Regions from separate parts of the Homo sapiens genome. Here region 1 is linked to region 2. The links come from fine-mapping of genetic effects on gene expression. A gene starts in region 2. The other region holds a variant in brackets. All regions are shown on one strand. Distances are between the middles of the regions.

Region 1 (8,339 bases), 180 kb before region 2:
TTGTCTCTGCATCTATCTGGGTGTTTCTGGGTGTTGCTAGAAGAGATTAACATTTGAGTCAGAGTCAATGGACTCAGAAAGACCCACCCTCAATGTGGGTGGTCACCATCCAATCAGCTGCCAGTGTGGCTAGAGAAAGCATGCAGAAGGTAGAAGGAGCTGACTTGCTGAGGCTTCTGGCCTTCATCTGTCTCCTGTGCTGGATGCTTCCTACCCTCGAACATCAGACTCCAGGATTTTTGGCTTTTGGACTCTTGGACTTACACCAGTGACTTCCCAGGAGCTCTCAGGCCTCTGGCCACAGACTGAAGGCTGCACCATCAGCTTCCCTACTTTTGAGGCTTTGGGACTCAGAATAAGCCACTACTGGCTTCCTTGCTCCTCAGCTTGCAGATGGCCTATCTGCAAGTCAATCCTCCTTCATAAACTCCCTGTCATATATCCATATATCCTATTAGTTCTGTCCCTCTAGAGAACCCTAATACACCAGTCAAACATTGGAACAACGTAGAAAGACATTGCCTTTCCTGTTTCCATCAACTCACATGTGTCAGACAATGCTAATTACTCACCCAATATCCATTACCCATTTCTTCCCTATCAAGAAAACCCTGAAATTGGCCGGATGCGGTAGCTCATGCCTATAATCCCAGCACTTTGGGAGGCTGACGCGGGAGGATTGCTTGAGTCCAGAAGTTAGAGACCAGCCTGGGTGACAGAGCAAGACCCCCATGTCTATTTAAAAAAGAAAGAAGGAAAACCCTGATGGGGGGAGAAGGGACTGCCCAGATGCCCAGTTAAATACCTACAATTCCCTACCTCACTACAGGATGGCCTTGATTGTGAGAACAGTTCTGGCTATTAAGCAACAGTCAAAAGATGTTGGTTGACAATTCCAGGAATGTTCCTTAAAGAAGGGCAGACTTGGATGCACGTGATGTTTTGCTCCTCTCTCTCCTTTCTCCCTTCTGAGTGAAATATAGATGTGATGACTACAACTGCAGCGGCTATCTTGTGACAGTGAGGGAAAGAACAACATAATCATAAAATCCTTGATACTCTAACATTCTTGATCCACCAAACCAATACCTACCTGTGGACATTCCTGCCTTTCCTTAAATAGATGCCTGTCTTGGTGACCTCAGTGTTCTTTGGGGTTCCTACCACATGCAGCCGATCTTAAGCCACAACAGGGATTAACTTCACAGATCACTCATCCCCAAGCCCCTCCAGTCTGGCTTTTATTTCCAGGAGTTCATTCAATATCTTTTTTATTTTTGAGATGGAGTCTCACTCTGTCGCCCAGGTTGGAATGCAGTGGCACAATCTTGGCTCGCTGCAACCTCCTCCTCACTGGTTCAAGTGATTTTCCTACCTCAGACTCCCGAGTAGCTGGGATTACAGGTGCCCACCACCACACCCGGCTGATTTTTGTATTTTTAGTAGAGACAGGGTTTCACCATGTTGGCCAGGCTGGTCTCGAACTCCTGACCTCAGGTGATCCGCCACCTCCGCCTTCCAAAGTGCTGGGATTACTGGCATAAGCCACCACGCCCGGCCCATTAAATATCTTATTAAAGTTACCAATGACCTCCATAGGTAAAAATGCAAGGAATAATTTTCATTTCCCCTGCTTGAGCTCTCAGCAGGATTCAACTCTGCTGACTTTCTGTGGTTTTCAGTCTCTTCCACTGGCTTGTGTGATATCATATTCTCTTGGTTTCTCCACTTCTCTGGCTGACATTTTTAAGTCTCATCTTTGTCATTTATCAACCTATCAAATGTTGGAGTCCTTCAGGATTCATTCAAGAGCTCTTTTTTCTTCTCATGATTTTTACTGAAAAAAATCTCATCCTTTCCAAGGCTTCAGTTATTATTATCAAACTGCCAAACACACCTAAATTTGTATTTCCTACCATTTGACCCAGCCATCCCATTACTGGGTATATACCCAAAGGATTATAAATCATGCTGCTATAAAGACAAATGCACATGTATGTTTACTGCAGCACTATTCACAATAGGAAAAACTTGGAACCAACCCAAATGTTCATCAGTGATAGACTAGATTAAGAAAATGTGGCACATGTACACCATGGAATACTATGCAGCCATAAAAAAGGATGAGTTCATGTCCTTTGTAGGGACACGGATGAAGCTGGAAACCATCACTCTCAGCAAACTATCGCAAGTACAGAAAACCAAACACCACATGTTCTCACTCATAGGTGGGAATTGAACAATGAGAACACCTGGACACAGGGTGGGGAACATCACACACCGGGGCCTGTCATGGGGCCGGGGGAGGGGGGAGGGATAGCATTAGGAGATATACCTAATGTAAATGACGAGTTAATGAGTGCAGCACACCAACATGGCACATGTATACATATGTAACAAACCTGCACGTTGTGCACATGTACCATAGAACTTAAAGTATAATTTAAAAAAATCATGACAGGAACAACACCTCACATGTTTTATTCCTGTCATGGAACAAATTGAATGTAAAAAAAAATTGTATTTCCAAGCAAGACACAGGGAAGAGATGTTGTTACCTAAAAGCCCAGGAACTAGGACCATCCAGTGGGAGCTAAATTCCTGGCAGGGTCTATTCCTGAGGAGCATGTGTCCTATAGGAACAAAGCTATGGAGGATACGCAGCCTCTGACAGAGACATATCAGGAAGCAGAGCAAGAGGGAAGTTCTCTACTTTCTCTACCTTTTCCCATCCTAGTCTTCCACTGCTGCCTCCCACTGGGCAAATCCATGCAAAAAAGGAAATCATGACTCCATACAAATGTAAATTAAACAATGAATAAATAAAAATTTGATGAGGGGTGGAATGTGTACATAATATCACATAGTGACACCCCACAAAATTCTTATTAACGGCAAAGAGAAAAGCAGTAACTTCACAGTTGAAACTACTGGCAGATACCACCTTAATTATGTAATTAAAGTGAACCTCAACAGTAATGAGACAAATTAAAATTATGCACAACCTCATAGGATGCAACAAGAACACAGTATCATTTCTGTGGCATTAATGCAACAGATGCATAACCTGAATCTAATCATGAGGAGACAGCAGACAAACCCAAATTAAGAGACCATCTACAAAATATCTGTCATCTTAAAAGTGCCAAAACAAAACATATATAGATATCAAATATATGAAAATAGCACAAAGATGTGGAGAATGGACTATACTGTGGTAAAGTAACTATACTTACCTAGAGAAATAACATGTCAACTCTAATTAGATGATGATAAATTTAAAGATATATACTATGATCCCTAGAGCAATCACTTAAACATGCAAAGAGATATAGCTAAAAAGCCAATAGATTAATTAAAATCAAATACTAATATTTGATAACACAATAGATTAATCAAGAAAGAAGGAATAAAGAAAAAAACTAAGATGAGAAAAATAAAAAATAGCAGACCTAATTCCAACCACATCAATAATTACATTAAATATAAATGAACTAAATCTATTTCTGGTAATGGTTGAGTGAGATACTAGAGTTGGTCCTACGTAAACTCTAGACATAATTTTTAAAGTAGCTATCCAAAGGCACTAGAGAGTAAACAAAAACAGGAAGATCATGGAGGGGAGTCCATACTCAGAGGAAGACCCACTCTGAGGAAGAATTTCCCCCATTTTTGTCACATTTAGCCTGGAGAATAATGCAGTTATTATTGTAGGATGCAGAGAGAGCATCAACCTGGAAAAAAATGCAGTTGGGATTGGGAGGTAGGGAACCACAGGACTGAGTCCAAGATGGCAGCTAAAGAGAGATGAGAGAGTCATGGAAGAGAAAGAGAGAATGCTCAAATTCTACCTGTCAATATCTCTGGTTGAATATTGAATCTTGTATATGCAGATCAGTCTCAAAGCATGTCAGCTAAAGATAAAAGATCCATACTGAGATTGTACTTATGATCCAAGAAAGAGATCTGCAGTTTGACTACAACAAAATTAATTGCCTGCTGAAACAAAAGAAACAACACTTACTGGAAAATCAAAAATAAGAATCCAGAGTCTTCACAACTTAGCATTCATAATATTCAAGATACAATAAAAAATTGTCCAAAATATGAAGATTTTTAAAAATGAGACCCATTCCAGAGTGAAAAGACAATCAACTGAAACCAACCTGAGGATGACCCAGATGTTAGAATTACCAGAAGAGCATTTTAAAGTTGCTAATTACAACTGTCATCAGTGATGTAAAAGAAAATACGCTCTTAATGAATAAAAAGCCATGAAAACTCAGCAAACAAATAAAAATGACAATAAAAGAACAAAATGGAAAGTCTAGATCGAAAACTACAATAGCTAAAAGTAAAATTGCACTGGTGGACTTAATACCCAAATAAAGATGACAGGAGAAAGAATCAATGAATTTGAAGATAAATCAATGGAATTATTCAATGTAAAATGAGTGAGAAAAAAGACTGAAGAAAATGAACAGAGACTCAGAGGCCTGTTAGATAATAATAGATAGTCTAGTATATGTGTAATTGACATTCCAGATGCAGAGGAGTAAGGAAATGAGGCAGAAATGAATATTTTAATAAATAATGACTGAAACTCTCCCAAATTTGATAAAAGACATAAATGTACAAATTTAACTACACAACAAACCCAAGGCAGGATAAACATTTAAAAGTCCATACCTCTGCACATTGTAGCTAAACCGTTGAAAGGCAAAGATGATGAGCAAATCTTAAAAGCAGCAAAAGAACAGCAACACATCACCTACAGGTGACTGATTCATTAATGGCTGACTTCTTATCAGAAATTATGGAGGTCAAAAGCAAGTGAATCAAAACATCTCACCATCTCACCCCAGTTAAAATGGCACTATCAAAAAGACAATAAAAAAAATAACAAATGCTGGTGAGGATGCTGAGAAAGAGGAACACTCCTACATTGTTGGTGGGTAATCATCATATCAAAGAGATATCTGCACTCCTGCGTTTACTGCAGCACTATTCACAGTAGCCACAA[T/C]ATGGAATCAACCTAAGTGTCCATCAATGGATGAACGAATAAAGAAAATGTGCTGTGTACACACACACACACAGCAATATTATTCAGCCATAAAAAGAATCAAATCCTGTCATTTGCAGCAATGTGGGTGGAACTGGAAGCCATTATGTTAAGTGTTAAATAAGCCAGGCACAGAAAGACAAATATCACATGTTCTCACTAACATATGACAGCTTAAAAAAAAAGAAAGTGGGCCTCTTGGAGGTAGAGAGTAGAATGAAGGTTCCCAGAGGCTGGGAAGGGAAGTGGGAAGGAGAGGGATGAGAAGTTGATTAACGGATACAAAAATACAGTAGATGGAAGGAAATAGTTTTAGTATTCAATAGTAGAGTAGGGAAATTATAGTTAACAATAATTTATTATATATTTCCAAATAGCTAGAAGAGAAGAATTCTAATGTTCCCAACACAAAGAAAAATGTTTGAGGTGATGGATATGCCAATTACCCTGATTTGATAATTACACATTTTATACATGTATCAAAATATCACATCTGCCCAAAAATATGTACAACTATAATATAATTTTTAAATCAAGTAGAACAATATCTTTAAAATGCTGAAAGAAAAAAACTGCCAACTCAGAACTCTACAAATAGCAAAAAAAAATCTTCTGGAATAAAAATGAAATAAAGGATTTTCAGATAAAAGAGACTAAAGGAATTTATTGCCAGTAAATATGTACTTCAAAAAATTGCCAAGAGAAGTCATACATGCTGAAGGGAAATAACAACAAATGAAAACTTAGATCCCCAGAAAGGAATGAAGAACATCAGAAATGGCAAAATCTGGATAAATGCAAAAGGCTACTATTGCTTTTTCTTCCTAATGTCTTTATAATACATATAACTATTTAAAGTAAAAGTTATAATATTCTCTTCGAGGGTTTTTAACATATATCTATGTAATTATACAAAGTAACATTAACATAAAGGACATGGGATGGTTAAGTGGACCTACTATCTACATTTTATGGAAAGTCTATCTCAAAATAGACTGTGAAAAGTTAAGCATGTATATGGTAATTTCTGAAGCAACTACTAAAAATATAATGCAAGAAAGTGCAGCTAAAAAGCCTATATAAAAGTTAAACTAGAATTCTTAAAAGTATGCAAATAATGCCCAAAAAAAAAGCAGGAAAAGAAGAACAGAGGAATACCAAACAAAAAGAAAAAGAGAAACCAAATAATAAAGTGGTAACCCCAAATCTGGTAACATTAGTAATTACATTAAATATTAATAGACTAGCACATTAATGAAATTACATATTAAATATTAATGAAATAAGCATACTAATTAAAATACAGATTATCAAAACAGATAAAAAATACAAGACACAAGTGTATGCTATCTACAAGAGGCACATTTTAAGTATAAAGATACAGATAAGTGAATTTGGCAAGGTTACAGGATACAACCTCAGTACACACAAAAAAATCAACTGTATTGCTATATCCTATCAACAAAACATCTTAAAATGAAAATAAAATCAAGTCAATTTATAATATTAAAATATAAAATACTAAGAAATAAAGTTAACAAGGGATGTGCAAGATCTGTACAATGAAAACTACAAAGCATAGCTGAAGATAATCAAAGGAGATATAAATAAATGAGGAAATATACCATGTTCTTATATCGGAAGACCCAACATTGTTACAATGGTAATTCTCCATAAATTGATCTCTATAGTCAATGTAATTCCAGTCAAAATCACATAAATATCAAATCCTAGCTAATAATGTACATACTAAGCTATTTATAAGGAAGTGAACAAATGTCTGCAAACTACTTTTAAACACATCAGAAAATAAGATGGATTGATGGATGAAGAGATAGATTGATAGATATGTAGTAAAGTAAGAACAGTAAAATATTAATGGTAGAATCTAAGTGGTGGGTATATGGATTCTCACAATACATTTCTTTTAACTTTGTCATGTTTAAAATTTTTCAAAATAAAATATGGGAAAATATAAAATATTTCCAATATGTAAAAGAGTATGGAGAGGAATAAAATGAAAACCCATGTCTCCCACCAACTAGATTAACAGATAAAACATGCAGATACAGTTGAAGTTCCCTAGACACCCTTCAACCTTTGTTCTTCCCCAGAGATAACCAGTCCCTTGATTGGTGTTTATGATGTCCACATATATGCATGACCAAACAGGAATGTGTTTATATACAACAAATAGAATTATGAATATATTGCACGTTTTAAACTGTATGCTACTGTAGATATAAGCTAATAATTTGCTTTGTTCTTCCACTTAGCCTCAAATCTTGGGGATTTATCCAAGAATGGAGACATGAATTTATTTTCATATCTGTAGAGCATTCATCCGTATAAATATGTAGCTATTCATTTATCCACTTTCCTCTAATGAATATTTCTATTAAACCATCTCAAGATGTGGCCTCTCTGAGCCTAGCATAGTAGTGAGATGCTCAGATTCTGGGCATGGGAAGACCTGAGTCCAAACCCTAGCTTCTTGGTTTTGTGGATTTGAGGAAGTCACTTATCTTTCTAAGCCTCAGTTTCCTCATGTAACAGGTAAGGATGCTCATTCTGCTACCTCTGAAGATCATTGAAAAGAAGTACATAAGACGGATGGATAAAAAGCACATAGCAAAGTGCCTGCCACACACACACTCAATATTCTGAGTCTGAAACACAAGGAATAGAAAGTCCTAGGGGTGCCACCAACCCTATTTCACTCAGGCCCAAAAAACACTACTAGGCACTGAAAACTGCCAGCTCTATCTCATAGGGTTAAATTTCCAACGGGGAGGCAGACCCCACACTGCTTGCCCCTAGACCTTCACTCTCAGCCTGGGAAACATCATGCAAAGCCATAAAGGTGGTTTAGGCTGGATCCAGGCAGCTTCCTTCTTTACCGCTGTGCTAACACACCACTGTACCCATCAGGGCTTCAGAAGGTCTCATGAAGGGACTATTCACAGAGGTATAGGCAGGGTTGTGGGGATCAGTAAGGGATGGTGAAACATCCTGGGGCTGGCAACTCTGGGGACCCTTGTTCAATTGAGCCTTCATTTTTTAACTTTATTTACACTTAAGTTTAAAACTGGTACTTTATAGATGGTAAAGTTAGGATTTGAGCCAGCAAACTGGCTCCAGGCTCCAAGCTCTGAGCCACTCTACCCTGCTGCCTCGACCCCAGAGAAATCCTTGTTTGTGTTCAACGTGGCAGGCAAGGATGTCCCCTGCAGCACTGCTTGAGGTGCCAGTGAAAAACTGGAGGCAAACTAATGCC
Region 2 (8,339 bases):
CACCCCTTCCCATCACCATCACCACCTCTTCCCATCACCACCCCTTTCCCATCCCCATCACCACCCCTTTCCCATCACCATCACCACTAAGACTTGCTCTCTAACTTTCGGATTTGACACTGGCTGTCTTGGCCAGGCCAGGCGGCTGTCATTCTCATGACCTTGGGATCCTTGTATGGAGTCACAGTTCCCTAAAGGACTGTATGGTAGAACTCCTCTACCAGAAGAGCTCCCAGGTACAGGGTTAGAAAGTCATAGGTGAGGAGTTAAGGAGAGGGGAGCCCAGGCCTCCAATTCACTGTGTGACCCTGAACAGGCGGTCCCTGTGCCCAAGTCTCCTTCCCATCTGCCGGGGGCTGCTGAAGGAGGGGCTCTGAGGCACCCTCTTGCTCTAGAAGTCAACCCACCTACTCTGCTGAAGAGTTGGCAGCACCCCCGTCACCCACGGTACCAGGGTGCCTCCATCTCGCCACAGTGATTGCTGAGTCCCATGGCTTCAGGGGAAATGGACCCCCTCCATCCCCATTCAAATTGAGACACAGAAGAGAAGAAAGGAGCCACCCAGCCACATAGAGCTGGGAGACGCATCTGGGAACAAGGCCCCTGAAAGGGCTTTGCCGGCCCAGAGACCACCCCCACCCCAGACTCCCAGCCAACAAATGAGGGTTTTCTTTTGCTCCCTTGGATCAAGGCAACCACCGTGCTCATTGTTGGCTCTGAGTGCAGTAGCTCATGCAGAAGCCCCACGCCTCCCCAACTCCCTGCATCCGGTGGGAGGAGAGGGGATGAAATGATTTACTCTGGGAACCTCCACTGTGCAGCCATTAAATCACTGGAGAAGGCGACGACATTTGCATACCACTCCCCACCACTTCCCAATGCCACCTCTCTGAAGGGCAGCGCCACACACAGGCACCCCCCCCATCACTATTGTAATGAGAAATATACCACATGCCACACCAAGGTGCCAGGCAGGAGGAAGAGAGCCTCTGCCCTGAAAGCCAAAGCTCCCCCCTGCCACTCAATGTGGCCCCTCTGTCGTGGGGCAGGTGGGGGTGCTCCACCCACCCTGATTTCATAGACCCTAGACCCCCGTGCATAATGAGTCAACGAAGCAAGATTCGTTCATTTTCCTCAGCAGGGACTGTAACTGCACCGCTAATTTGCAAAGCCACAGCATGTACAAAAGTGGCTCGAATAATAGGGGCCCCCTAGTCGCTAAGCTGGGGGATTTGTGCTGACTCTTACCAAGTACAGTTCCATATGTTTAAGCACTTGCAAGGCTGAAAGAAGTACACCCACCCTACTCTTTACCATGGCAGCTACCCACGCAGGAAGGGGGGTGGGGGACAAAGAAGCCAGTCCCTGCGTGTGTGTGATGGGAGACAGTGTGCGCATCTTTGCCTCTGAACTCTTCCAGCCCCTCTTCCAGAGCCTCAGCCAAAGGGGGTCGGTAAACCATGGCAGAAATCACCCAGAAAATCCAACCAGCCCTGAAGGAAGCTCTGGTTAATTCCTCTGAACCTCTCAAAACCAAGTGTAGGCAGCTAAGTATCTTTCAGGAATTTCTTTTTTTCTTTTTTTTTTTTTTTTTTTTTGCCATCCCTCCTAACTAGTGCTAAATATAGAGTTATCAAACTGTCGTCTCTTTATGTCCCTGGTAGGGACCAGTTAAAGACTTGCATGTGCTTCCAGGGACGGGGCGATGGCACTGGGGGCTCTGCCCGGACGGCATTTGTCGGAACGAGCTGCCCTGCTGAGACTCTCCCAAAGAACAGCAGGGGAGCAGGCAAAGAGCCGGCCAGCAGCAGGTTTCAGTGGGAGCTCACCTTCCCTCCCAACATGGGGCCTTCCAGAGCCAGGCACAGGCTCTTCTGTTGCTGGGGGAGAGGGCGGGGGACGGGGGTGGGGGGGTGGTAGGGGGACCATCCTATTCTCTTACAAAGCATTATGCAGGCAGCTTCTCTGAGAGACTTCCGATATTCACTTATAAGCACATCCAGGCAAATGCTGACCCCCGTGGAGAAACAAAATAGAGACAAAACTGCAATTTTCAAGTCCGAGGGACTGCACTTTTGCAAACAGGTCCCAGGGCTTCAGCTAAGAGAAAACAGCCTCGGCCCCAGCAGCAGCCCCTCTCGTGGACCGCAGAGGAATGCCGAAAGCAAAACAGCTATCATAGCTGCTCCTTAGCCAAGCAGGCAAGATTCATCCACGTTAAGCCCAATGCCATTCTCTAGGCTGAACCAAAGCCGAACGCTGACGGAGATCTCCAATAGAAGGTTTTCTTCAAGTCGAAGGTGTTGGTAAATATTTTGGGTCACTTAAGGGCATCTCAAAGGAAGCCGACACTGACTTTTTCCATGCAAATAAAATACATCGAACATCAAGTTGACATGCCAGGTTTGCTCCTAACTGCAACCTTACCAAGACAGTGAAAGCCGAAAAGTTATAGTTGTATTTTTCTACTGCATTCTGCCTGTCTGTGCGATTTGTTTGTTAAGGAAATGGGGAGAGATTTTCTAAAGCAAAAGCTACCTGTTCCCAAATCATGGGTCTTGATTTTAAAAGGTTTGGAGAACTGAGATTTCAAAAGCACATGAAGGCTGCTCGTGACTGTTCCCGGGGTTCATCTGAGCCTTTAGGATTTTCTCCACTGCTTGCATGGGGTGGGGGGAGGGGAGGAATTGTCATTTTAGGATACGCTTTCTATAGAACCAACATGTAGCCACACCAAGGTGGGTAGAAAGCTTTCCAAACTCCAGCGAAGACAGACAATACCTGACTATTTTGCTTTTCCCACTCACTAGGATTGGGCGACAGCTGAGCTGGTTCAGCAGGGAGTCCAGCTCCCCGGTGCCCAGGCAATGGCTCTGGACAGCACCGCGTTCCAGGCTCCCCGGCGCGTCCTGGACTGCTTGGCCGCGGCTACCCTCTCCCGCCCGCCTTGGGGTCAGGGCGCTGGAGTAGACCGCGTTTGCAGGAGGCGCGCAGCGGGCTGCTCTTTGGCCAAGAGGAGGCCATTTGGCGAGGGTGGGTAGCTTGGGGAGGGCAGTGTGAAAGCAGGGGAGGGCCGCGGGGCGTGGGGAGGGGCTGCGGACAAGCCAGACAGCGCCGGCCGAGACATCTCCGGGGCCCGCAGGTGTCCCGGGAACGCACCACTGTGCGACCGCGGGCAGCAAGACACTGGAGAAGGGCTGCGTCGACGCCCCCGCCCAGCAAAACCCCTGGAGGAACTGGGACCTGGGGGGGATTTGGCCCAAGGCAGGGCGGGGAGGGGGCTCGATTCCTGCAGTCGCGTCCCCACCCGCCTCGAGAGGCTGAGTGCCCCGGTCTGTGGCCCCCGTGCGTCCCGAAAGGATCCGCAAGGAAGCTAAGGGTTTGGGGGAGAAGGCAGGCGGGCTCTCCCCAGGCGCTAGGCAAAGGGGAACGCGCCGGGGGCTCCTGGGTTCCCAGGGTCTCCCCAGGTCTGTCCAAGTCCGGGAGATGCGCGCTGCCAGGGACTTGAGAAGGAGGTAGCCGCCCGTTCACCCAACTTTGTGCGCCTCGGCCGGGGTCGGGGATGGGGTCCGGGGACGCGTTACCTGGGCACTGGAGCGCAGTCAGCGCCAGCAGGAGCCCGAGCGGCGGCGCCCGGCCCGGGGGCGGCATGGTCCTCGGCGCGCGGTGGGTGCGGCGCGGGGCTGCTCCTCTCGCGCGCCCGGCCCGGCCCGCGGCTCCCGGAGCAGCCCCCGGCGGCTACGCCCGGGCGCCGGGCATGGCTCGCTCCCAGCGCGCCGCTCCTCCCCAGACGCATGCGCCGGCGCTGGCGGCGCTTCCTCGGCTGCGCCTCTGCGCGCTCTCCTGGGCTCGGCCGTGCGTGGCTGGGGAGCTGGGGCGGCCGAGGCTCAGCGCCCCGCGCCCTGGCCGGCTGCCCCGCAGTTGGCCCGAGTTGCGCGGCCCCCGCCGCCGCCGCCGCCGCGGCTCCTGCGCCCCAGCGCCCGTCCCATCCCGGTCGCGCCGCCGCCGCCGCCGCCGCCTCTGCCATCGCCATCTGCCGGCCGCCCCTCGAGCCAGCGAGAGAGTGAGCGAGCGAGCGAGCGCCGGGGGGAGGAGGAGGAGGAGGAGGAGTAGGAGGAGGAGGAGGAGGAGAGGAGCGGAGGGCGGGGCCGCGGCCGGGGGAGGGGCCGCCCGGGAGCCGGGGCACAGGCGGCAGCCCGGCCAGTAGGCGGCGGGACGCGCCACTGCTCGGCGGTTCGGGGGAGGGCGCCCGGCCGGGAGGCTCCGGGAGCCCGCCGGGGGTCGCGGGCGCTCGCGGGTACAGGGGCTGCGGGAGGGGTGCGCAATGCAGAGAGGGGATGCCCAGCTAGATCCGGCGTCTTGGGGCGCAGCGGTAGGAGTTGCCAAGGTCGAGGGGTGAGGAGGCCAGCGGAGGGTCACCGGGATGGGGCAGCGACCTCTGGAGAGGTGGTGTCTGCCGGGGCCAGAGACTGCAAGACTGAGCGCGGACAGGAGGTCCCGGGTTAAATGTGGCACAGCTAGGGAGTGCCTGTGGGAGAGGGGAGAGGAGAGAGGGGAGGGCCTCCGGGAGGCCGAGGCTGTGTGCAGAGCCTCTGCACGGCACCGGGATGGGGGCTAGGGGTGCGCAGGCTGGGTGCGGTGACCTGAAACACAGCGAAGGCGGCCTGGGGATGGCCACCCGGGTGAGGCAGGGTCCCTTATTTACCCAGGCTAGAGGATGCGCCTTCCCATTTCGCGCAGGCCCTAGGAGCACGCGGAGGCAGCCAGGAGTTCTCCTGGGAAGGGCAGATTCCCTGGCGGTCCCGGGAATGAGTTCCCAGCGCAGGGTCAGGCAGTGACGGAGCGGAGGTGTTGCGCAGGGCCGGGTACTAGGTGGTCGAATTCTTCCATCCAGGGGCAGGGACGCAGCCAGAGTGCGGAGGGAGGTCACAGGTCACACGGAGCCCCAGTACCTATTATCCCAGAAACCACTGATCCTCCTGGGCGCCCCACCCCCAACCAGGGCAAAGCCACGGGGGGCTAAGCCGAATGAATGAGTCATGCTGGGAGCATGTGGGGGAGCCTCCAGCAGCGCTCAGATGCCTTCAAGCTTCCCCACCACGCTGGGAGGACAGGGGATATGGGGGGTTGCCCACCTGGGAGGGTGGCTTGGAGTCCTGGCTCCGCCCCAGCCCCCACCACACCAGCCACTTGCTCTGCCATCTCAGTTTTCCATGAAAAAGTGGGTCAAACTCTTTGAAAATGGTCAATAAGGCAGCGTGGGGTGATGAAAAGACAGATTTGGGGAAGGCTCTGGAGTCATGGAGTCTTGGCTGAGAATCCCAGCTCTGCCGCTCCTTAGCTGTGCAAGCTGGGGCGAGTCCCTTATTCCTCCCTGAGCCTCAGTTTTCTCATCTGAGAGATGGAAGGCATTGCACATCACCTGGTGTCCCCAATAACACATACAAAGCCCCTGACCTAGGAAGTCGGAACTCATTTAAAGGAGTCAGTGTCAACATTATCATTCTCATCATCATGGCCATTATTATGATAGATCTGATTTTCCTCTGCGGGCCCAGAGCTCACATCAGAAGGACAATCCTCCCCACTCCCGGCTGCCAAGAGGGGATGGGGGACAGGGCACCTGCTTGATTAGTACAGACAAGCTCATTAGCAGAGGCAGCACTCAGTTCTTCCTAGATAAAAGAAGGAAGAAAGCCAGGGGCAGGTGGTGAGTCTCCAGCCCAGGTTAATTAGGAGACGTAAAGGGATTTTCCCGTGGCTGTTAATCGGCTTCCTTTACAAGGGGCCCATGCCCAGGCCAAGCCCCCTTTGGGCTCCCTGGCAAGGCCTGCAATGTGTGGAGAGCCATACAACAGGCTGGACGACGGGATTGGGGGTCTCCTCGGGCTTAGGGTGGCCTTGCGAGGGGCCCATCTGTCCCCTTTCTGTGACCCTTTCCCCAGATAAGAGGATGATCCTGGAGACGTGGTCAGGACTCTCTTAGGGTCCTCTGTGCCCGGCTGCCCCCAACACCTCTTTCCTGTTCACTTGTTCATAAGCATCTGCAGAGCTGAGCACCTACTGTGTGCCGGCCTCTGCAGGGGATGGTGAAGCAGAAATGAATGGACGACAGCAGGGGAGAGCCACAGCAGGAGTGACCGCGGGGTGCTGGTGCCAAGGTGAACCGTGTGTTTGACCAGGAAGCAGGTCAGTGAGGCTGGGAGACTGTGGCCAAAGATAAAAGTCATTTTCTGGCAGGGTAAGGGGTCATTCTGTGGCTTTAGTGGCGGTGCTTGGAGAGGGTTGTGAATCAGTCCAGCAAGTCCCCAAGCCAGTGGTCACACAGTCCCAGGTGTGATGGCAGATGGCAGTTGCCTTCCCCCCAACCCCACACTCAGGACTACCTGGTCATACTCCAAGAAAGCACCTTTCAGTGGGGAAGGGCACTTCCCCATTAAAATATGCTGATGGTGGTTGAGCCAGACGCTGAAGAGAGGAATCTCCTTTTGAGGGTAGCTTTTCCATGCCCCAGCTGTGTGACTCTGGACAAGCCCCTAATCCTCTCTGAGCTCATACGTGGGGTAGGGATGAGAATTCCAGCCTGGCTCAGCCTGTCTTGTGGTTGGATGAGGATTTCTGCATATTAACCATGCCCCTAAGCCTGTATCTCTAAAGGGGGTGTTTCTGGAGGAAATAAGCAGGGGAAAAAAGCCTCCCTGGATTCTGAAGGGCGGGGGGGAATCTGAGAGGCTGGCGGCAGTAACGAGGAGACCCCAGGGCTGAGCGGAATTCTCCTCTCACTCCTACCTAGACTCTCGCCCCCAGCCTGCTGGCCTCATAGCCTGGGCAGGACCGTAAGAATTACACAGCCTACAATCTCCCCCTAAGTATAGATGGGATACTGAGTCCAGGAATTGTCCTTCTCCTGGATCTGTAAGTGTGGGGAGGCCGACTCGACTAACAGCCAGCCTCGAGCCCCAGCATAGCCATGCAAGGCTTCCTCAGGCCGCACCACCCCCTGCACAGCAAGAGACTGCCTCCAGCACGGATTGCTCCCGGTCCGTCCCCGCACCCCAGTTCTGCTGCAGCTCAGCCCACGCGCCCGCCGGGCTACCGGCGAAGAGCAACATTGCCATCTCGTGGCTGAAACTGGAACTGCAGGTCTGGAGGGCGCTGCAGAAGGAAGGTCAGGGTGGGGGTGCGGGTAGGGGTGAGATGGAGGCGAATAGGCAGAGAGGTTTCCCCACCTCAGCCAACTGGCAGCGGCAATAACAGACCCCTTTGCCCTTGAACGCCAACACGCAGGCAGCTGCTGCCGTGGTGACCACCCGTTGAAATTCTTTGCAAAGCCTGGGACTGTTTGTTGTCCATTGCACACATCGATGTTTCTGGCATGTTCAGGGAACACAGAATTGACTTAGATTGCATTTGCACCACAGGTGAGTGGTAGGGGAAAGGGGCCTCTCAAAATAGAAGCCAAGCTCACTTATACAGGTAATCAAGGATTTACTAAGAATAAAGAATTTCAAGAAATCAGTTACTTGCACACCTGGACATATGGACCCATGATGGAAGGAAGGAGCCTCTTTATGGCAACTTGCAGTCATCCATATCACTCTCTGTCCCCTCCCCTGCTTTGTTCTTCTTCGTAACAGTGGCTACCACCCAGCATCATATGTACAGAGAGTGGCCCAATCAGTCCTGGTTATATTAATGTATGAATGAAAGGAGCTCAGGGCTGGACAGTACAGTAAGCACTGAGCCCTGGGATGTGAGCCCATGAACACTCAGACCAGGAAGGACTTGACTTCCCTTCCAGGTCCACTCCCAACTGGGAGGAGGCCACAGGGGAGAAATGGCTTTCTGGTGTGTTTGAGCAGAAAGCACCTTGAAGAGCTCTGACCCCTGGCTTCCCAGGATAAAATGATTCCTGGACCGGCAGGGGCTGGGAAGGGTGTGAGGTGGCAGCCAGGGGTGAAGGCACCATCGGGATGGGATTTTGGAGCAAGTGTAAAGTGTGCTAGAGCAGAACAAGACTAATAACAAATAATAATGATAATAATAAATAATGATGCATCATTGAATACATACCAGACACTGCTCGAAGCAGTTTGCACGTGTGTTGGTTTTTAATGGTGGTAAAATGCACATAACATGAAATTTACCATTTTAATCACTTTAAAGTGTACAATTCAGTGGCACTTAGTACATTCGCAGTGCTATGCAACCATCACCACTCTCCAGTTCCAGAACTTTTTCATCACCCAACCAGAAACCTGGTACCCAATCACTCCCCATTCTCCCCTCCCTTCCACCCTTAGCACCCACCAGACTACTTTCTGTCTCTATGAATTTGA

The links. PIP is the estimated chance that this variant, and not a neighbour inherited with it, causes the effect.
Region 1: its variant is fine-mapped to the expression of TMEM132B in atrial appendage (GTEx, PIP above 0.99).

The regions. Positions count from the first base shown.
Region 1 is chr12:125,362,989-125,371,327 of GRCh38, reverse strand. All of the region lies in intron 2 of TMEM132B (transmembrane protein 132B), which reads right to left. Among named protein-coding and RNA genes, the nearest start is that of TMEM132B, 180 kb to the right of the region's middle. The variant T/C (reference allele first, on the strand shown) is at 5,024.
Region 2 is chr12:125,182,112-125,190,450 of GRCh38, reverse strand. It overlaps TMEM132B (transmembrane protein 132B), which reads right to left and starts at 4,065. Exons shown (of 9, transcript NM_001366854.1): 1 at 3,585-4,065. The coding sequence starts at 3,651. RefSeq lists a silencer at 4,073-4,282 and an enhancer at 4,331-4,864.